Linked DNA regions of Homo sapiens: region 2 is linked to region 1. Evidence: fine-mapped expression QTL. Tissue or cell type: whole blood. Region 1 holds a variant in brackets; the other region holds the start of a gene. All regions are shown on one strand. Distances are between the middles of the regions.

The links. PIP is the estimated chance that this variant, and not a neighbour inherited with it, causes the effect.
Region 2: it holds the start of PXDN, and the variant in region 1 is fine-mapped to the expression of PXDN in whole blood (TOPMed, PIP above 0.99).

The regions. Positions count from the first base shown.
Region 1 is chr2:1,810,121-1,813,023 of GRCh38, forward strand. The region is part of intron 21 of MYT1L (myelin transcription factor 1 like); the gene reads right to left. Among named protein-coding and RNA genes, the nearest start is that of PXDN, 67 kb to the left of the region's middle. The variant C/T (reference allele first, on the strand shown) is at 1,474.
Region 2 is chr2:1,743,238-1,746,140 of GRCh38, forward strand. It overlaps PXDN (peroxidasin), which reads right to left and starts at 1,278. Exons shown (of 23, transcript NM_012293.3): 1 at 1,019-1,278. The coding sequence starts at 1,218.

The DNA of each region.
Region 1 (2,903 bases):
ATATAACGCTTTTTTTTTTTTTTTTTGAGAGGGTCTTGCTCTGTCACCCAGGCTGGAGTGCAGTGGCCCGATGTCGGCTCACTGCAGCCTCTGCCTCCTGGGTTCCAGTGATTCTCCCGCCTCAGCCTCCCGATTACAGAATTATAGCCTCTGGGATTACAGGTGTGTGCCACCACACCTGGCTAATTTTTGTATTTTTAGTAGAGACAGGGTTTCACCATATTGGCCAGGCTGGTCTTCAACTCCTGACCTCAGGTGATCTGCCCGCCTTGGCCTCCCAAAGTGCTAGGATTACAGGCATGAGCCACCGCACCCCGCCTATAATGTTTTATATATGTATATGACATATGTGTTTATTCTCTCTATACATAATATTGTATTTCACCTGTATATGAAGTGTTAGATGGACCGTGTCCGTAAGTGGTGTGATGATGTGTTAGTGATATATCTAGAAACACTCTTTACTAGTGCAGGCAGATTACATCATTATTAGAAATATCTCTAATATCTGCATTAATATAATTAAGCTTTCTAAATATTATTTTTGTAATACATTTTCTTTTAAAATTTAAGAAAACAGGAAAATTCATAGCAGAAGAACTTGATCGTAATACATTTTCAACTGGGGATATTAGTGGTTGTTTTTGGGGAAATCCTATCTTTGTATAAAAATATTTCCAGTATTCTTCATCCACACCACAGGTCTAAGTTGTTATTTTTTTGATGTGATGTTTGCATCTCATAATTATAATAGAATATTCATAAAATTCTAAATAATCATTGCTGTTGCCTGACTGTGTCCCCTGAAAACTCGTGCACTGAAATCCTGACCCCCACCGGGATGGTGTTAGGAGAAGGGGCGTATGGGAAGTGAGGAGGCCTCGTGATGGGATCCGTGCCCTTATAACAGGGACCCAGACAGCTCCTTAACCCCTTCTCCCATGTGAGGACAGAGTGAGAAGGCGTCGTCCACCAACCAGAGAGCAGCAGTTGCCAGATGCCGAATCTGCTGGTGCCTCGGTCTCGGACTTCCAGTCTCCAGAACTTGGAGGAATAAATTTCTGGTTTCTATGCTGCCCAAGGTATGGTATTTGTTTTTGCAGCCCTGGAACGTCTAAGACAATCACCAGTATTTGTTGCTCATACCACAACTCTGTGGCTGTGAACTGCTGTGTTTGCTGATGATGTTCCTAGGTTCAGTGGGAGAAGGAGCAGCGGGGACTTTAACCCCAGCGTCATCAGCTCCAGCATCATCAGCTCTGGCGTCATCAGCTCTGGCGTCATCAGCTCCAGCATCATCAGCTCCCGCGTCCTATCCCATCCCAGGGCAAGCCGCACGGGAAGCCCCAGGAGCAGAGAGGCCTCTGGGAACTGGGTGGCCTGACAGGGTGGGCACGGTGGGCGCCCTGGCTTCTCCTGCTTGCCCTGACTGCATCCCCAGGAATCCGGACAGTCCCTGAGGGGGTCCTGGCT[C/T]GTGGTTCCCTTTGCTGTTTTTTTGTTCATTTATTTGTTACTAGACATTGGCACTGCTGCTTCTGATGGATCCTCTCACCCTGCCTGCTGCTGTTTACACCGGAAATCCCTGTGCTACTCAAGCTGTCTTTAGTGTGGGGCGTGAACGAACCCCTCGCGTTCCGGAGGGAACAGGCTCCTCTTCAGTCCTCCCTGATGGGGCCTGGGCAACAACCTGGCAGTCGTCCCCACTCCGGGGCACCCTCCTGGGTCTTCTCCTGCCTCCCCATCAGATCCCAGCAGGACGCCCTGCAAATCCGGCTGGGGTGGGGGCTGACACTTCTGCTTCCCTAGCTTATCCGTAAATCTGCTTCTGAAGGCGAGCTGGATATTTTCATTTGTAAAATAAGAAGTTCTCAAAAGATCTGTTAAGGCTCTCCTAAAATAGGATGCTTGGATGTTAACGCCACTTTTCCCCTTCCTGCCACTGGACACACTGTGGCTGTCACACACATCTTCCTGCAGGTGTGTCTGCGCTTTGGCCCCCGCATCCAGGTAGACTCTGCAGTCAGGTGACTACATCTGGCAAGTCCTTTGTGAGACCAGGAGGCCCACTGGACCTCACACCGCACCCCCTGATGCTCTAACGCACATAAGACGTGGAACTGGCTAGGAAAGACTTAGGCAGTCCTGTTTGCTCACTTATGAAATGAGAATAAAATATTGAATTGACTGTGTTTGTGAAGTTTAATGAAAAGAATGTGTATTCTTGAGGGCAAGGATTAAAATGCACTTTTTTGTTCACTGCTCTGTATCCCCATGATGGGAGAGTGCTGGAGATGGAATAGGTGCCCAGTGACGACTTCTGAAAGCATAAAATGTCTGAATGCACTTTGTGATGGCTCAGTGAGTGGAGGCCCAGGGTGAGTGTGAGTGCACCCAGGCTCTGGAAGGTGCAGACTGAGCCCTCAAAGAGGCCTGCGGCAGGATTTTGCAGGACTTCCAAGTTAAGAGAAGACTCTTAGCCGGGCGCGGTGGTTCATGCCTGTAATCCTAGCACTTTGTGAGGCCGAGGCGGACAGATCATGAGGTCAGGAGTTCCAGACCAGCCTGGCCAACATGGTGAAACCCTGTCTCTACTAAAAATACAAAAATTAGCTGGGCGTGGTGGCAGGTGCCTATAATCCCAGCTACTTGGGAGGCTGAGGCAGGAGAATCTCTTGAACCCGGGAGGCAGAGGTTGCAGTGAGCCGAGATCGCACTGCTGCACTCCAGCCTGGGTGACAGAGCAGGACTCCGTCTCAAAAAAAAAAAAAAAAAAAAAGACTCTTGAATGCAGCTGCCGCCCTGGGTTAAGATGAGAGGAGGGCTGGGGTGAGGGCCTCCTGCAGAGGTCCTAAGACTGTGACTGTAGGACAAGGGTGACGCCTGGTCGGTCCACGGTGCGTGTG
Region 2 (2,903 bases), 67 kb before region 1:
GTGTCAACCCCAACGCAACGCATCCGGTTAAACGTATAGCGCAACTGCGAACACGCTCGCGTGGATTAGAAGCGAAAGAAGAGAAATGCCCGAGGCAGAAACCCGCTCTGAGTCCCGGCTCCATCTAGACCCGGGCTGCCCCGAGACTACCGCGCGGCCCCTCTCGGGAACCCCGGCCGCCCGGCTCGCTCCGGGCGCAGGAAAAGCCCCTGAGAAGCGCGGGGCCCCCAGGACACCCCAGGAGAGGACGCTCCGGGCAGATGCGGGGGCACTGGGAGCGGGGGCGCCGCGGCTGCGGGAACTGAGGCTCCTCTGGGGAGGCTTCCCCGGCGCGGGGGGATGGGGTGGGCACTGCGCTCCAAGGGGCGGGGGAGGGGGAGAGGGCGGAGGCTGGGGGAGGAGAAGGAAGGGGGGGAGGAGGAGGGGAAGGGAGGAGGAGGAGGAAGGGGAGGAGGAGGAGGAAGGGGAGGAGGAGGAGGAAGGGGAGGAGGAAGAGGAGCGGAGGAGGGGAGCGAACAGGACGAGGAACGGGGCGGAGGGGGCTGGGAGGACGGAGGGGGCTGCGCCGCGCTCGGGGAGCGGAGGGGGACCGAGGGGTCCTGAGCGGGGGAAAGGTGAGCGGAGGAGGGGCCGCGAACCAGGGGGAAGCGGGAGGCCGGCGGAGCATGAGAGGGGGCGGCGGGAGGCGAGCGGGGGGAGCCCCGGAGGCTCCAACAACTTCCCAGTCCTGCGGGGATTCCGAGTTCCGAACAAAGGCGGCTACGAAGGCCGCGCGCACAGCGCTCTGTTCCGCCCCTCGGCGTCTCCCGCAGGGCGAACAAAGGCCCAGCGGGTCCCCGCGCCCAGGTCCCCCCACGTCCCCCTTCGGAGGTTCCCTTCTGCGTCCCAAGTCCCCAGGCCCCCCGCGCGCCCGATGCCCCCTCCACCCTCCGCGCCCCCCACCTCCGATCACCCCTGCGCTCCCGGATCTCCACGAAGCCCCGGACCCCGCGCCCCCGGCGTCCCCCGCGGCACTCACAGGATGGAGGTCTGCGGCGCCACGGCGGGCACGGCCTCCAGCAGCAGATGCATGCAGCGCACGGTGGTGCGGAAGCACAGGCAGCGGCTCGGACACCCTGCGCCCGGCTTCTGGGCCACCACGGCCAGCGTCCCCCAGGCGCAGAACAGCACGAGCGCCAACAGGCAGCGGCGCCCGGGGCCCCTGGAGCGCTTGGCCATGGCCGACGGCGCGGACGGACGCTCGGACGCACGGAGCCACCACGGCCGGCTCCCGACTGCGCCCGCCCGGCCGCGGCCCACGTCCCAGCTGTGCGCGGGGGGCGGGGGGCGCCAGCTGTGCACATGCGCGAGGCTCCTCCCGGCCCCTCTGAATCCCCGAGGGCGGGGCGGGGCGAGAACCCGGGGCCCCAGCGTCCGGCCTGAGCGCCCTCATCCCGGTGGGGCGGCCCGCATGGCCAAGGCGAGCGCTCGGGGGCGCGGAGGAGAGCATTGGCACCCCTGATTCTGCGCTCGAGACTCGGGGCTCGGGACCCTGGGGCCTACGCGAAGCTTCTCCACTTCTCTTACCCGTGGTTTCTGCCTGCGCTCACTACGGGTTTTTTAGTTGGCGCCTTAATGTTTGTAACACTTTTAGAGCGCTTGCTCTGATCCGGGCACGATTCCAGGCGCGCAGGCGCGCTCCTCTCTTTCTCCTTCTCCCTACCCGCAACCACGTAGGAAATTATTTAACGTTCCAAAAAAGCCCCTCATTCCTTTTGAGGAAACTGAGGCCCAAGCCCCAAAGCGCACAGCAAGGGAGTCTGCGGGAAGATTAGACCCAGGCGGTCCGGCTCCCCGGGGCCTGTCAGCCACCTGCTCTCTGCCGGCCGCCTGGCTCAGCACAGTTGGGAAAATGAAAGGTCCTGTGTGGAGTCCTTGGCGCGGCGCAATGCAGCCCCCGGGATTCTCGCGGCCTTCAGTGCGTGCCCTCCTGGGACAGACCTAGGAGGAGACCCAGGGAACCCCCCCCCCCCACGTCGGGTGTGTCTAGAGACAGCAGAAGACTTTGGAAAGGAGGGAAGACACTGCGTGAGATACGCACAAAGGTGGCGTTCTCACATAGTTCATACATTCTCTCCAATCATCTCACAAGGACCCAGTCTGAATTTCACAGACAAGGAAGGTGAGGCCAAGTTGCTGAACCCAGGCCACAGGGTGACGGTGCCAGATTCAGAGGCACAGCATGGGCGTGTTCCCGTCGCAAACCCCAAGTCTCAGCTGTGTCCCCGTGCTGGTGTTCTAGCCTGAGCTGCGTTTGAAAGCAGCCTGGAATGGGATTGGTGGGTAATAGGCTAGTTTCCTGTTGCTATGTTAAAACACAAAAGCAACTACCACGAGACATAGCCCGGAGGTCACAGGTGCATTGCTGACCACAGGGCACCATCTAAGGACTGGACCCCCGAGGCTGCTGGCAGGGGGTTCCAGTTCCTTGCCGTGTGGGTCTCCATGGCCTGCACACTGGACATGGCCTGATGCCTCCCAGAGCAGGTATTAGAAGAAAGAGGAAGAGAATGAGAGTACAACACAGAAGCCAGGGTAAAACCTAACCCAGCCTTGGAACTGGCCCCGCATCACACCTGCGGGGTGCATCCTCAGAGGTCGGTGGCTCCCGCTGACATTCCAGATGCCATCTTTCCTGCAGGATTTTATCCACCCTCTACAGCGGATGCAGCTCACACTCCGGATTCCATTTCTCCTGCAGGATCCTATTCACACACTCCGGTGGGCCCAGCTCACACTGCAGACAACATCTCTCCTGCAGGATACTATCCACACACAGAAGTGGGTCCAGCTCACACTGCAGACATCTCTCCTGCAAGATCCTATTCACACATTCCAGTGACTCCAGTTCACACTGTAGATGC